2 separate regions of the Homo sapiens genome follow, and region 1 is linked to region 2. The links come from fine-mapping of genetic effects on gene expression. Tissue or cell type: whole blood. Region 2 holds a variant in brackets; the other region holds the start of a gene. All regions are shown on one strand. Distances are from middle to middle.

Region 1 (8,106 bases), 64 kb after region 2:
CAAGAGTGACTAAGTTTCTGTGATCTTTGACTTAGGAGATTCTTTTCAAAGGGAAACTGCAGTGTGGACTCAAAAGCTGCCGAACTGGGCTTTGGGAATTCAGTGTCACTGCTGCCCTGCCTGACTCATCACTGGAGGCAAGCACTGAGTTCCTTTGGTCTCCTGCCTCTTCCTCCCCTGTGTGCGGGTCCTCTTGGTAACACTGACCTCATAAAAAGGTGATGTGGGTACAAGGAGACTCAGCATTATAAAATGCTTGGAAGCCGCCAAGGGTACACATTGAGCCCTGAGCATCTTTCTGCAGTGGGGATCTTGGCTGGGAGGCAGGGCCTCAGGGAGCAGGCAACAGTGGGGGCAGGTTTGCTGCAGTGCACTCCAGGCCCAGCTGCACCTCACACCTCCTCCTCCCTCCCTCTCTCCCAATACTCTCTGGATCCTGGCTGACTTGACTTGAGGTCGAGCGGGTGGATGTGGGAGGCCAGCCACCTTGCAGGGAAAAGCATCCTGCAGTGCTCAGCCACAGTGACCATTCTGACCTCTCAGCACAGCAGGAACTCAGGCCCCTTGTACTCTTCAGAACCGCTGTACATCTTACCTCTCAAGCTGCCATTTGTAACTATTTCCACCCTCCCTTCCCATCTTCTTTAATCTCCACAGTCCCCTTCCTCATTATCTCACCCAGGGTCTCCATGTTACCTGGTTCCCTGTACTTCTTTCTGTCAAACTATGCTCCTTTACGACTCACTCCTTCCCTAGCTGCATAAATGGCTCTGCCTCCCTAAGCCTTCCTTGGTGGCTCCTCCCCACCTGATCCCTCCCTTCCATGATTCCTTTTTATTCTGAGCAATTGAGTGCATTCATCTATTTGTATTAGTTTACCTGTTCCAACTTCTTCACGCACAAATCCCTGAATCTGCCATGCCTTTCTCACTCATGATGTTTGTTCCCTCTGCTTGAAATGTCCTCCTCCTTGCCTCCCTTCTAAACTCTGCCTTATCTTTCCACACACAGCAGAAATGTCATCCTGACCCTAAGGCTTGCTTCCATCACCTCAAAGACAGATTAAATCTAATAGGACTTTGTTCACCTTTATTAAATTATGGTTTTTTGCTTAGGTCATAGCAACAGCTAGTACTTAGTACTCATGTGTCACACACCTGAGAACTTTATATATGGTAACTCATTAAATCTTCACACCACCCTATGCTATTATCTCCAATTTAACCTGCCCAAGTTCATAGCTAGTCAGTGGAGCAACTAGGATATGAACCCACATAGCATGGCTCTAATCAGATACTACACCACCTCTCCACCCAGCAAACTCCACCTGCAGATCAGGTAGCCTTTGTTCCAGAACTGCACTCAGATCTCTTGGTCCCAAATATCTGGCACACAGCAGGAGTCACTAAATGTGTTCTGAATTTAACTGAAATTTGTTTAGCATCCATTCCCATGATTTCCTCAGACGTATGTTCTGTCTCCCCAAGCTGTCCATGAGATCAAGGGGAAAGAACTAGCTCATTTGTTTTCTTCGCAGGCACACAATCACAATGCAAGATGAGAGGTGGGGAACACCCTGTGAGCTCTAGGGGTGCAGCTGGTGGAAAACTAATTTTGGATTTAAATGTGTCTTGTGTGTGCAACTGACAACGTCTTTTTCACATGCCTGATCTCGACAAGTGTTATCAACAGTTGAGGTAGGTGGAAGGATGTGAGGAAGATAAGAAAACTAGGTGCAGATTGTTTGAGACCTGGCCAAGACCTCAGAGCTAGAAATATCTGAATGAGATTACAACCCACAGGCTCTGAATAAAGCACCTGAAAGCCAGCCTCCTGTCCACTGGTGTGGTCCTGGGCAGCTGTGGCCGTCAGGAAAGGGAGAGCGTTGGGTCAGTTCTTCCCCCAGCAGCCTGGGCAGGGGTGGGAGGCTGGTGAGAGGGCAAAGGGGAGTCTGGCAGGGTGTTCTAGAGAGGAGGCCAACTGAGGAGAGGTATTAAGAGCAGGCCAGCAGGTTCGGAAGACTCTGAGGGCTTCTCAAGTGTTTGGTCACCTTTACCAGACGGGACAGAACACCATGAGAGGTGACACGATTTCCTAGTGGTATGATAATATAGATATGAGGAGTCAGGAAAAACTGGCTTATCTTTCCATCAGTTGGAGGTAGTCAATGTTTCCCTATCATTTTTAACTACCCCATTGCGTTTCTAAAAATCTGTATCTTTATTTCATTGTTCTAATTCAACACAACCGCAGATCGAATTTACTCAACGCCGTGGTAGAGGAAGGATTTTCAGGCTAGGATGAGCTCTGCAGAAGAGAAGCTTTACTTAGTAGAAAAGGCAGTGAATTTCTAGACAGAGACCTGCCCCATCTTACTAACTGGGTAGTCTTCCATATGTCTCTTCACCCCCTGGGTTTATCTCCTCTTCTGTAAAATGGGGATGAAAATGCCCACCTACCCACCTCCAAATGAGTGCTATGGCAATAAGTTGCACGAAGGCCTGTGAGCGCCCAGCCTAGGCTTTCTGCGGATCTGAACGGTCTCCAGGGTCTCTGTATCAAGCTCTTCACCATTCAGGAATGAAACACTGCGGATGTCTGCTCAGAAATGCAGGGAGAACCTCCTCCCACAGGGGACCTCCCGCCCTGCAGCTCATGAAGTGAAGGCTCGCAGATCGCCAGGCTCTTATTGTAGCTCGACAGGGGCGAGGCAGGCTAACTCCGGGGACGCAACAGGGTGGACCTGGAACCCGGGTTTCTTGGCCCAAGGCACCGAAGGCGTAGGGATTGCTGTTCCCGGCCCGCCCCTCGCGGTAGCTGCAACTGGGGGCATGTCCAGCGGCACGGTCTCCGGCGCCCGCAGCCCGGCTCGGGAACCACTTCGCTTACCTGCGGCTCCACCAGCCATCGCTGCTCGGCGCCGCCGGGCGCAGGGCGCGGGGCGCGGAACGCGGAGTACACGGGGATGCGGTCCCGGGTGCTGTAGAGGGTGGCGAAGCGCTCAGCACCCTCCGCGCGCTGACAGATCTTCACGTGGGAATCGGCCGCCAGCCCCGCAGGCGGGGTCCCGGCGTAGAAGAACTTGTCACATTCGCCAAAGCCGGCTTCCTCCTCGCCCACGAGCCGGCCTTCCAGCAGCCCAGCCAGGGCGAAGAGGCTGCCCAGCGCGAGCCAGCGCGCGGTGCCCATGGCGGCCTCTGCGAGCGCGGCGGGGCCGAGCGGCTGGGCTGCCGCGGCGCGAGCTCTGCAGGCTGGGCGGGGAGCGCACTACGCAGCCGAGCAGGGTAGGGAAGGGAAGTCGCAACCTAGGCGCGGCGCTCTGCGGAGCCGGGCGGGGCGGCCCGGGCGGCGGGGGCGGGTCCGCGTCGGGAGGCCGCGCCTCCCTCCCTGAAGATGGCTGCAGAGGCCCAGGGCCGCGCTCCGCGATGCTGACAACGTACCCTGGGCTGCGCCCGGGACTGGAGACGCGGGTCACCTGCCTCCGCGCCGCCTGGTCTCAGCAGTCCGGGGGACGCGCGCTACCAAGAGTGGAGAATCCGAGTGGGGCGGGCCTAGTCCCGGGGCTGGGAAGAGATAGTCGCATGGACTGGGCGCCAAGAAGCCTGCTGATCGCGCGCGCCCCACGGCCGCCCTGGTGATGCAGAGGGGTGGCGTGAGATGCTCGTGGAGCTGCGGCTGGTTCGGAGTGGATGGGCAGAGTTCCCCTCTGAAATTTCATGAAGATGCGTCTCCCACTCTCCACCGAAGTACTCAACGACCAGCACACGCATACAATTTTGATGGAGTTTTTTGTTTTTTGTTATGTTTTTTTAGCTCACCAGAAACTCAGAGAGTAAAGAAATACTGTTAAAGGAAGTTCCTAAACTAGGCAGACAGTATAACCCTGTGTGGTTTTCTTGGTGCAAGTGTTAGAAACAAAACCGATACCAAGCAAGGAAGGAGGCCAGCCAACGTCATTGGTCAACAGGTTGGCCAATTCTTTCCTTCATTTATCCCTCTGAATGCCTAGGTGCCAGCCTGAGATAGGCACTGGATTACCACAGGGGTAAACAAGAGCAGGGCTCCTGCGGTCACAAAGACAGCCTAGTGGGAAAGTTTGTCATTAACCGAGGAAACATGCTATTAAAGGGATAACTAAAAACTGAACACAGATCTGTGAGACCCTGACAGCTACAGGGGTTCAGGATGTAATCCGGGAAGGTTTGCCTGAAGAAGTGGCATCTGAGCTGAGACCTGGAGGATGACATTAACTAGGCAAGGAGGAAAACCATGTGCTAAGTGGTCTCCCACAGAAGGGAACATGATGTATTGGAGGAATTTAAGGAAGGCTAGTGTGGGTAAAGCGCGGAGAACCGCGTGGGGGATGATGGGAAGTGGGGCTAAAGGAGGAGGCAGGGGTCATATTACTCAGGTTATTATAGGCCAGAGGCCTTCAAACACTTTTTGAGAAGGCCCATAATGAGAAAAGTTTGATGAAATAATTCTTATGCTTATGATTGGCATTGCAATTTCATATTTCTGTTCTACTTCACTTTTTTAAAAAAGTGCTGGTGTTGACCCACTAAATTGTTTCTATGAGCCACTAATGGCTCATGACCTGCAGTTTGGAAAAAATATTGTAAATCATGTTGAGGATTTTCATCTTTTAAAGGTGGTGACTCGATTCTTTTTGCTATCAGGGAAGAGACTGGTAGATTGAAGTGGCACAGAATAAATGGGTGGCTCACACCTGTAACCCCAGCACTTTGGGAGGCTGAGGCAGGCGGATCACCTGAGGTCGGGAGTTTGAGACCAGCCTGGCCAACTTGGTGAAACCCGTCTCTACTAAAAACACAAAAAAATTAGCTGGGTGTGGTGGCGGGCACCTGTAATCCCAGCTGCTTGGGAGGCTGAGGCAGGAGAATCGCTTGAACCCAGGAGGCGGAGGTTGCAGTGAGCCAAAATTGTGCCACTGCATTCCAGCCTGGGCAACAGAGCCAGACTTTGTCTCAAAAAAGAAAAGGAAAAGAAAAGAAAAACACCCCATAATTGCCACAATCCAGATAAGAGATGGTAGCTTGGACCAGGATGGTAGGATGGTGGCAGCAGAGATAGGGTCAAGGCAGCTACCCAGGGCCAGGGCCTGTGCTCATCTTACGATGTCATCTGTTTCCCCAGTGTGCCACTACAGGGACTGAGACCAGAGCCTGTTGATTCTGGCCTAAGCTGGCACAGCCAGTGAGTCCTAAGACAGATTTGAAACAGGTCTCTCTGCTTCCCAAGCCTGGCCTTTTCTTTTAACTCACAGCGCATCTGTAAGGTGAGCCCATAAAGAAGGAAGCTCTTCAAGAGATTATACATTGGAACTTAAGAACAAATTTCTTACAGGTTTTAATTCCGGAAAATGTTGACTATGTTTGGTCCCAGAAATGAAACCAAAGTTTGTATCTTAGTTTTTTTAAAAAAAGGAGGGGACACATTTAGTGTGATGTCACAGAAGAGGCTAGACTTGAAGTCCCCTTTGATCTGGATGATGACCCTGATCATCTGGTACTAGTATCTCAGTCATCTCATCCTTGTAGGCTTCAATCAAGTCCTCCCACAGGGACAATGCTGCTCCTGGGATGCTGGGAGGATTATAGGTTTTACAGGATTTTAAAAATATTTACATTATTTTATAAGGTTGAATATAGGGTTCCCCAATGTTGACTTATGATGTCTACCATAAAGATATATAAACACAGTTGAACAACTAGAAATCCATCCCTCTCTTCTCTGAGTTCTTTAAACATTTATCTGTTATGATACTTATCATGGTAGAGTGTTAATAGTCCCTGTATCTGTCTTCTTTATTAAATCATGTGCTCCTAGGGACAAAGGTGGTTGGTGGATCCCAGTGGCTACCACAAAATCTGGAGTGATTAGATGCCAAATATGATTATGTTGTATTTTAACAAATGCAGAAAGTATAATACAATCATCATTGGCCTTTATGACTAAAGTATTTATAAGACTTTAATTCACTTTCTCAAAATTTCTTGATGCCTGCCCGCCACCTCTGATAAGCATAAATATCTCTGCCACTCAGTCCCTGTGGCAGACTTTAGTTTTTTCCCCAGCCCTCTATCAGTGACTGACACACATATAACACTGAACATTTGTACATCCCACAGCCAGGATGATTTTGTTTATTTTCTTTAGTTTATAGTACAAGACAATAGATTTTTCTTCCATGTGCTTGCCTTCCACAGATAAAATATTACTTTTGCAAATTACAAATGTTCTCACCCCAAGATTCTGGAACAACCTACAAGGTAGGAATGCCTTGATCTAATTAAAACATTTGCTAACTGCTGATTTTAGGGGAAAACTGTCTTTAGCAGCATCTGTATGTGTAAAACATGTAGGTCCATCAATAATTCACTGCTGTCTCTACATTTGGTCACTGACTCTCTTCTCACAGGGAAAGAGGTTTCAAACCAGATCCTCTTAGGTCTCTGCACTCAGACCCAGCCAAAGCTGGGTTCCATAGCCTTCAGCAAAGGCTTGAGGATGAAAAGTAATGGTTGATGTGGAATAAAACATTTGACATGCACTTCTGTGGCTTGGTTGGTTCTGTCCAAAGTTATTTAAAAATATGAGCCCAACTAGACACTTCTTTCCCCTGCCTCACTGCTCTGATGATAATTGCATCTCTACCATCACACCTTTGACCAAGCCATCCTCATTTGTCATGCCCAGTTTTTATCCCGTCATCCCTTCTAATCCACTCTCCAGCTGGGATGACTTCCTAACATAAATCTGATGATGTCACCCTACCCTTACAGCACTTAATCACTCTCCATTTACCTTGGGATGCAGCCTGACATACTAGCTGACTTCCATGACCCCAGAGACCTGGCCTTTCCCTCTCAGGCCTCATCTCTCTCCACTCCCACCTTGCCCACACGCTCAGCTTCTTATATTTCCATGAATGCACAGTGTTCTCTCTTTTGTTTTGTTTTTGAGACAGGGTCTCTCTGTCACCCAGGCTGGAGTGCAATGGTGCAGTCACAACTCACTGCAGCCTCAATGTCATGGGTTCAATTGATCATCTCACCTCACCCTCCTTAGTAGCTGCAGCTACAAGCGTGTGCCACCACATCAGCTAATTTTTGTATTGTTTGTAAAGACAGGGTTTTGCTATATTGCCCAGGCTGGTCTGGAACTCCTGAGCTCAAGCGATCCATCTGCCTTGGCCTTCCAAAGTGCTGGGATTACAGATTTGAGCCACTGAACTCAGCCTGATGCTCTCTCTAGTCTTTGAAACTTTGCATCATAAACTACTTCCCTTGTCCTGGAATTCTCACCACCCATTCTCATCCCTTCACTCATTTCATCTAGCTTTTTTTTTTTTCCCAATAGTCTAGCTGACCATCACTTCCTCAATCACTCACCTTCCTGACAAGCATGTCCTCAACTTTACTCCCTCCTCCCCTCTATGAGGTTAAGAGCCCCTTCTAATTATGCCTATTAAGCCAGTAACCCCGTTTCGTAACTGCTACCTTTCCCCTTAGTCATGAACATAGTGCCTACTATAGAGTAAGCATCTAATACAGTGAGTGAGTAGATGAATGAAAGAAACTTTCTTTATGAAACTTCATTTGGGTCTTCATTGCTCTAATTCATTCATTCATCCTCAGAATGTTTTTTGAACATCTACCATGAGCCAGCAATGGCACTAGATGCTGGGTATTTAAGGGAAGCAAAGTTTAGCCTAGTTCCTGCTCTCCTGGCACTCAGGCCAGCACCTCTCAGTGTCATGTGGGCAACCAGAAGAGAAAACACAAGCTAGCTAATTATTTGCAAGTGGCTTTGCCCTAGACTAGGGCAGAGCAAAGCAGAGAAATCTTCATGCAGCTAGTGAGTTCTGTAACATTGAGTTCATGCTATACCCATCTTCATTACAGTGCAAGACTGACACAGACCTTGGCATCACAGAACTTGAAGTATGGTACGGAGGACAGACAGACAAGCAATTACAATACAGCATGAGAAATGCTCTGATAAGGGAAGTACTGTGTGTTGTGTTGCAGAGAAGTATAATTTAGGCGGAGAAGCTCTGGAAAGACAATGGGAATGGTGGAA
Region 2 (8,106 bases):
CCTGGCCCAGCAGCTCCTGGAGGCAGTTGTGGAATCTAGAGTTGGAGGAAGTCTTGAAGAGAGAGCTCTTTGAAGGCACAGCTGGCTACAAACCAGTCCCGGAGCCGGCAGCCCAGCCCGGCTCAGCACATCTCAGCCAGAACATAGCTAGGCAGGCCAAGGAATCCTAAGAAGGGGATGATATTTTTAAAATCTTTGGCGTTAGCAAAACTGAAGGTTGCCTGGCCAGTGCTTGTCTCTTTCTTTTTCCCAGCTCAGTGTCTAATTTGTGTATTTCCAGGATTCCGAACCTTTCCCCAGCAGATCAGGTCTAAGTGCAAACGGTCCCTAAGTCACCCATGTTCCTTAGGCTTTTTCCCTCCTTAGAAACAAAAGGTGGACCTTTGCCAAGATTAAATGGCATTCCATTCAAAGCTCCAAGTCTGGCTCAGTTCAACATGCTCATGAGGAGGACTTTGAAAGTGCTATGGATAATTTTCTAACAAGGCACAACTACCCAGCAGGACTGAGACCAAAAAAAGAACCATCTTTTAAATGTAAGTTCTTATCAGCTCTGGAAAAAAAAAAAATAGACGTTATTTAAGCCAAAGCTTAAATTTGGGCTAAAGCCTCAGACTTGAAAAATGCTTGAAGCCAGAATTGGGAGGTGACAGGGGTGTACCAAGGAAGGGTGGGGGTGGGGGAAGCACTGGTTTGTGATTTTACTTCCAGTCTGCGGTCATTGAGTTCATGAGTTTGTACACTCTTGGACCTGTCAGTAAGAAAGTATATATTGAGCATGGATGTTATAGCAAAGCTCAATATACCATTTGGAATCGTATGAGACAGGGTTGTTACCCTTGAGTACTTCACCATCTCACTAAGGAGAGAGGGAACAAAAATAAGCAAAGATCTTTTTAGGGGACTTGGCATATGGTAAGGGCCTCTCAAAGTCACTTCCTGTATTCCCTTTCGGGTGTTGGAGAGAAAAATGATGTGACCGCTAAACGTGTCCCTGGGACAGAGAGGAGCCAAAATTGACCATGGAAAGGGAAAGATCACTGTGGACTTGAGTGGCCTGTGAGACTGGCATGGTAAGAAGACGGCTATGGGTTAGGGAGGCCATCCATGATGAGCTGGTGGAGGAGAGATGGGAGGGCCCATGGTGGAGAGTGGTGAGAGTGAAGGGCAGAAAGGCCAATCAGGGGCCTCCAATTCCAGGCCAAGTGGTTTGGTTTAGCCCAGGTTTCAGATTAGAAGCCAGACTCACTGATGGCTATGGATGTGTGAGTGTGAGTGTGTGTGTGTGTGTGTGTGTGTGTGTTTCTTTTTTGCTTTTATTGGAGTTGATTATATATGTTTAAAGTCTGAACTGGAATGTCTGGGGTCAGGGAACATTTGCTCCTCAATTTTGAATTTAGCTTCAGGCTCCACTTACCCAGTCACTTAATTTGTATGTTTATGTTACCTACCTGTAAAAATTCGAGATTGAGGCCCCTGTCCTTCAGGTAACAGGGAACTAATGGATATTTTTGGAATGATGGAAATGGTATTTCATGATTATCAGGGTTGCCATATAAAATACAGAATGCACAGTTAAATTTGAATTTCAGATAAACAACAAATAATTTTTAATATATGTCCCATATAATAAAAATTATTCATTTTTAAAATTCAAATGTAACAATGTAACTGAGTATCTTGGCGTTTTGTTTTTGCTTTTTGCTAAATCTGGTAATCCGGCTCATGTGGCATATATAAAATTAATGGGAGGAAAGAGAAATGAGATTAAATGAGGAGGTTGTACAATAGTCTCAGAAAGACATGGATAATCCACTCCTTTAACAGGATGGATGGCTGCATTGGAGGTGAGAGACATTCACAAAAAAAGAACGAGCGGAGCATGCAGCTTGGTTAGAGATGGGGAACAAAAGAAGAGAAGTAACCCCAGGGTTACAGAGACACAATTCACACTACAGCTCTGCTGCTTAATTACACAAGATACTCCCAGCCTTGGTTTCCCCATTACCACTTCTAATGTGTCATAAGGAGTAATGAAAATGCCTCATAAATGCTGCACAAATGTCGGTTGTTGTAATAAATGTCCCAGCCCCATTCTTTTCAACACACACTATTACTAAAGCCGTGTCTCTTCCATGCTGTCCTTGTCTAATTATTTTGAACACAAAGGTAAAATGTCCCTTTGTTCCATTTCCCTATTGGCCCACACAGCTCGAACTTGTACAATTCCCTGTTCTCCACATGGGCACTCGCGAACACTCAGAGCTTCCTCTCCTTGGCAAATTCACGGGCCTTTCCTCTGTTTTTCCAGCAAGCCATTGGTAAAAATGTGTATTAGGACAGAGTTGGAGACACAATAAGCCAGAAGCTCTGACCCTCGAGGTGGCCATCAGTCCACGCATAAACACCCTCTGGGTCCTGTCTAATGCACTATACCTGGACTTTGTTTCTCTGTGCCCAAACATCAGACAGAGACCCCCTGTGCAGATAACATGAGGCGATGGGCCCTGATACTGACTACCCCTGCTACTTTCTAGCTCGGTGTCTTGGGGCACATGGTGTAGCTTTTCCTGTAAGATAGTTTGTTATTTACTGTCCTTTTATTTCAATTGCTTTTTCCTTTCTTCAGTGTCAATTTTATGACTAATGGTTACACTAAAATTGTCTAAACCTTTTCTTTCTGGATTACAAATGATGGATGCATAAAATGCTCCCTCTGGCCTGGCTTTCTTCAAGTCACCTTGCCCCTGCCCTCAGGGAGCTCAGCTTCTCATCTGTCTCCAGAACTTCTGCCAGAATGCTTCACCTTTCCTTGGCCTCTGTTGCCACCTGCAGGAGCATTTGGAGGAGGGTTCCAGGACCCTAGATGCCAGAGAGGGAAGCAATAGGCATGTGAAATCTTGAGTTTCACCAGACAAAATCTCCTCACCTCTCTTGAGTTCATGCTGCAATATTTATGTTATTTATTTATGTTTATTTATTTGAGGCAGAGTCTCACTATGCTAGCCAGACTGGCTTCAAACTGTTGAGCTCAAGCGGTCATTGCCACCCACCCCCTCTGCCCCCACCTTAGCTTCCTGAGTAGCTGGGATTATAGGCACGCATAATCATACCCAGCAAAGCTCCAGTATTTAATCAGTTGAGTGACTTTAGGCAAATCACTCCTTTTAGCCTATTTCCTCATCTCTAGAAGAATATTTGATATCCATAAATTTGCTTTGATAGTGATTGTAAATGGGTCATTCATTTATGTATTCACGAAGCAAACAGCATGTTGGATAAAAAGACATGAAAATATAAGAACCTGAGAGAAAAATCACAATATTACAGGGGCATCAGTCAAACCCACAGGAAATTGTCAGTTTGTTTTGATAGACCTATAAACAAAGTGTCACATGATCTAAGTCATGCCTCTTGTCTGGTGCAAGCAGGGAAAGCTTCACAACAGAGGTGACATATTAATTGGACTTGGAAAACCACATAGGAGTTCACCAGGGTTTGGAAGAACACATAGGAGTTCATAAGGCAGAGAGGAAGGGAAAGGACTTTCCAGAAAGGGGAAGCAATAAGCCAAAATGTTTTGACCTGCAGGTTGTTCCCAAGGAGTGACTGAACTCTTGTATCCTGCAGCAAGCAGGCTTGGTAGGAGAGAAACGTTAAGGAGAGAGGAATGTTGCCAATGTCAAGGGAAGGAGTGGTGAGGCTTGGCCCTGGCAGGAGTCTAGTAGGGGGATGAAGAAGAGGAGCTATCAGGCTGCAAAAAGAACATTGAATCAGGATGGGCAGGTCTGCTTCATGGCCCAGACTCTTCCAACCACTCACTATGGGACCTTGGCTAAGTTAACCACCCTCTCTATGCTTCAGTTTCCTCATGTGCAAGTGAAGATAATAACCCCCACCTCGCTGTGTTGTTGCCAGATAACACATGCAAAATCATTAACACAGTGCCTGCCGCAGATGTGCTCAAACAGGTCAGCCACTGGTGTTACCATTAGATATGCAGCTTCAGGGACTTATTTTGTCTCACCA[A/G]TCCTACTTTCCTCGTCAATAAAGTGAGAACGAGAGTGTCTGCCTTGCATGCATCAGAAACTGTGAAGATACAATCAAGTAATACAAGCTGTACAGAATGAGATAATGAAGCCTACATTTTAAAATATAGCAGGCATCTACCAATCATAACGCAGTTTCACTTTCATTACGACGTTTAACTTTTTCTGACAACAACCTTATGAGGTAGGATTATAATGATGTTTATTTTACATGTGATGAAAGTTGGGTTCCTTCATTTAATAGATGCTCCTTGAGCAGGTTCTGTGAACAAGACAAGACCATGGGAATTGTAGTTGAGAAGAGGAAACAGACTGCAGGTACATGCTGGGGGAACCGGGGCTCAGGGCTTCGCCCTGCTATGTCTCTACTCACTCTCTGATGATCTCTCCAAGGGACTGATGGGGCTTTCAGTCCCATGCCTGTATCATGGCAACCCATATTTCTATCTCCAGCCCAGCCCTCTCCAGACCTGTGTGTCTGCCCAATCAATCTCTCCACTTGTTTTTCTAATGAACACCTCAAACCTAAAATATATAACATTAAGCTGTCTTATCCCTCTACCCCAGCATCTTCCAATCTCAGCCAGCAGCATCTCCGTTTTTCCAGCTGCTTGGAGTCATCCCTGATTCCTGTCTTTTTCTCATACCCAAAAAAACAATCAGACAGAAAATCTTATATATATGTAAATCTTCGCCCCGGTTGGAGTGCAATGGCGCAATCTCGGCTCACTGAAACCTCTGCCTCCTGGGTTCACGCTATTCTCTTGCCTCAGCCTCCCGAGTAGGTGGGATTAAGGGTGCACACCATCACACCCAGCTAATGTTTTGTATTTTTATTGATTGATTGATTGACTGAGACAGAGTCTCGCTCTGTCGCCCAGGCTGGAGTGCCGTGGCGCCATCTCGGCTCACTGCAAGCTCTGCCTCCCAGGTTCACACCATTCTCCTGCCACAGCCTCCCGAGTAGCTGGGACTACGGGCACCTGCCACCACTCCCTGCTAATTTTTTTTTTTTTTTTTTTTTAGTAGAGACGGGGTTTCACCGTGTTAGCCAGGATGGTCTCGATCTCCTGACCTCTTGATCCGCTCACCTTGGCCTCCCAAAGTGCTGGGATTACAGGCGTGAGCCACCGCGCCCGGCCTTTTATCCTACTTTCAAAAAACATACCCAGAGTCTGAGTGTTTCTCCTTACCTCCAGCGCCACTCCATGGCCCGAGCTCTGTTTCACCTGGTTCTCACCTGGATCGCGGCCTCCAATTTGCGCAGTGACCCCTACAGTCTATTCTCCAAACAGCAGCTGGCGTGGTCATTATGAAAAGCAATGTCCACCTGCTGCTCAAAAACCCACGAATGGCTCCCCATTTCTTTCCCATTAAAGCCAAAGTCTAAAACATTTACAAAGCGTTATATGATCAGTTCCTACCTGCTTTCCTTATGTTGGAGGCTGTGAAGCTCCTTAATATATAAACAGTTCTCAGGAGAAGGAATAAAAGCACAGCCACCTCCTCAGCAGAGCCAGTTTACACTCTGCTAGAGACAAGAGGAGCTGGGACCTTCTCCCCTAACCCTTACTGCATATGTGAGAGAAGCCAGACCTGCTGGATCGACTGGAAATGCCCAGTGCCTGAGACGGGGAGGAAAGAGAAGCCGTGGGGAGGAAAAGACTGTAAACCTAAAAGGCATTGAAGTCCCACCTCACCAGTTAGGCAGGGAGGAGAAAGAGGCCTAGGGCGCTCGGGAACTTGGAATAAGGTTGCCCTCTGCGGGTGAAACTGTGAAATATCTCACAGTGGAGGAGGGCGGAGACTGTTCGCAGAGGGGCCCGGCGAAAACGTCACCCTACTGGAGGTACGAACGCATCGCAGACTGGGGGCGCCCGAGCGCATCCCAGACGCGAGGGCAAAGGCCCAGGAGGACTGTGGGGCTCTCGGAAGTATCCGATCACCTTGCGAGGAGTCCGCCGGCTGTCCGAGCCTGATGTCACTGCAACTTCGATTCCTCCGACGCCCCTACTCTTACTTCCCAGTCTTCAGGCAACTTCTCCGCTTCGGCCTCCCCTAGGCCTTGGCCCCAGAGAGGGGACGCACTCCACAGGTGGATTCGCACGTGTGGGCCCTCGGCAGCACTTTCTCGTGCAAATTAACAGGTGGCCCTCATTGTGGAAGCACCGCCCAGCCTTTCCCGGGGAGGTCACCAGGGCGAGGCCGCTCAAGGTCTGCAGGCGCCCGGCGTTAGCGGGATCCTCCCCGCGCACTGGTCCGAGGAGGCCAGGAGAGGGCGAACCAGTCCCCGACCAGCGGCCCTTCCGGGGGTGGGCTCTGACCCCACCGAGCGGTTAGAGGGTCCAGGAGCTCCAAAGGGTAGGGCAGAATTGGGTAGATGAGGGTGCATTTTTCTGGGAGGAGTCTAAGGCGTCGCTGACTCTCAAAGGCCCGCATCCGGAGAAAGGGAAAGAGCCCCGTCCCGGGAGGAAGGACGAGAGGCTGGCCCGCGGGAAGGAGCCCTGGCAGTCCCTCCTGGCCTAGGTCTACCTCTTTGATCTCACCGTCCCCGTGGCGGCGAGTGCCACCAAAGATGAGAGAGGCCAGCAGGTATCGGGAGAGAGCTGAGGGGTCGGCGCCGGCGGGACCCCAGATTGGAGCCGCCGTCGTCGGACGGGCAGACCCTGCTGTAATAGCTCCCGGCCGGCCACGGTAGGCAGGTGGGGCCCACCGCGAGTCCTAGTGAAAAACACCTTCCTCTTGATTCTCTCAAAGGAACCCGAGCCCTGGGAAGGGACATCAAGGCGCTCCCGAGACTCCGGAGACGGCCAACAGCCCCAAAAGAGAGTACTCGGCTATCCAGCCGCCCTTATCCAAGCGGAGAATCTCTCTCCACCTCCGCCCTCCCGGGACTCAAAGTTGTTTGTGGAGCCTCCAGGTTTCCTTGTAGATGGGCACGATATGCACTGTGTGCGCGCGCGCGCACACACACACACACACACACACACACACACACACACACGTATATGTATTTTTCCAGTGGCCACTGCAGGATTGCCAGCTTTCGGAAATGAGCATCCGCTCTCTCTCTCGGGACTGGGCGTGGGGTTCACCGAAAGGAGAGGAAGAGACCTTGCGTTTGCGCTGGGCCTGCTCGATGCCAGGCCATTCTAGGCTTCTGTCTATCCTGGTTTCTGGTCTGTGCGTTGTGGGTAGCAGCATTGGCGTATTACGCCGGAGGGAGCAGGCTGAGCGAGGCTCCAGAAGGTGCGCAATAGCCGGAGAGGAAAGGGCGATGCTGTCACCTAGCCCCCTCCCTGAGACTCCATTCAGCCCAGAAAAAGGAGCTGCTTTCTCCCCCATCTACCCTAGGAGAAAATAAACGGTCGCTGGCATTTTCCTGCGTCTTTTAATTTTGCCAGAACTGTTTTGGGTTGGCTATTGTGGGCCAGGATGGAGGCCTTCTCCTCCCGGGAGCAAACCTGCCCACGCCCAGGCCGGCAGTGGAGTCAGCCTTGCCCCAGCCTGCCCTCCAGGGAAACAATGCCCCTTTGTCCCTCGCCCTCCCGGGGCTGATACAGCCCCTCCCCTTAGCTTAGGGCTCCCTCCCGTTAGAGCATTCCAATGATTGCCACAAGTCACACTTTTCTTTGAGGTCTCTGCCTGGGAAGAAAACAAAGCAGCCCTCCTAATCACACGGAGGGAGTGGAACTTTTCCTGCCCTCTGACTATGTGCCAGCCTTGGCTCCTCCCTGAAGCCCTGTCTAGAGGGCTTATTAGGTCACTTATGTTTTGTACCTCGTGTGAAGTCCCACAATCAGTAGATTATAGAGGGGAGCACAAACCCAGCAGTGTCTGACATAGAGAAATTACACATACATACATACACACATACATACATACATACACACACACACATACACACATACATATACATACATACATACATACATACACACACATACATACACACATACATACACACATACACATACATACATACATACATATATACATACATATATATAGTCTTTCCACCACCCAGGATTGAAAATTAATGCTGTTTTTGACATTG

Evidence for each region. PIP is the estimated chance that this variant, and not a neighbour inherited with it, causes the effect.
Region 1: ENDOD1 starts here. The variant in region 2 is fine-mapped to the expression of ENDOD1 in whole blood (TOPMed, PIP above 0.99).

The regions. Positions count from the first base shown.
Region 1 is chr11:95,085,011-95,093,116 of GRCh38, reverse strand. ENDOD1 (endonuclease domain containing 1) reads right to left here and starts at 3,271. Exons shown (of 2, transcript NM_015036.3): 1 at 2,890-3,271. The coding sequence starts at 3,189. RefSeq lists silencers at 1-192, 3,020-3,449 and enhancers at 1-192, 3,460-3,519, 3,590-3,869.
Region 2 is chr11:95,149,392-95,157,497 of GRCh38, reverse strand. It overlaps LNCRNA-IUR (lncRNA imatinib upregulated), which reads right to left and starts at 6,959. Exons shown (of 3, transcript NR_110303.1): 1 at 5,750-6,959. RefSeq lists a silencer at 5,730-5,839 and enhancers at 6,360-6,489, 6,090-6,631, 6,632-7,173. The variant A/G (reference allele first, on the strand shown) is at 4,030.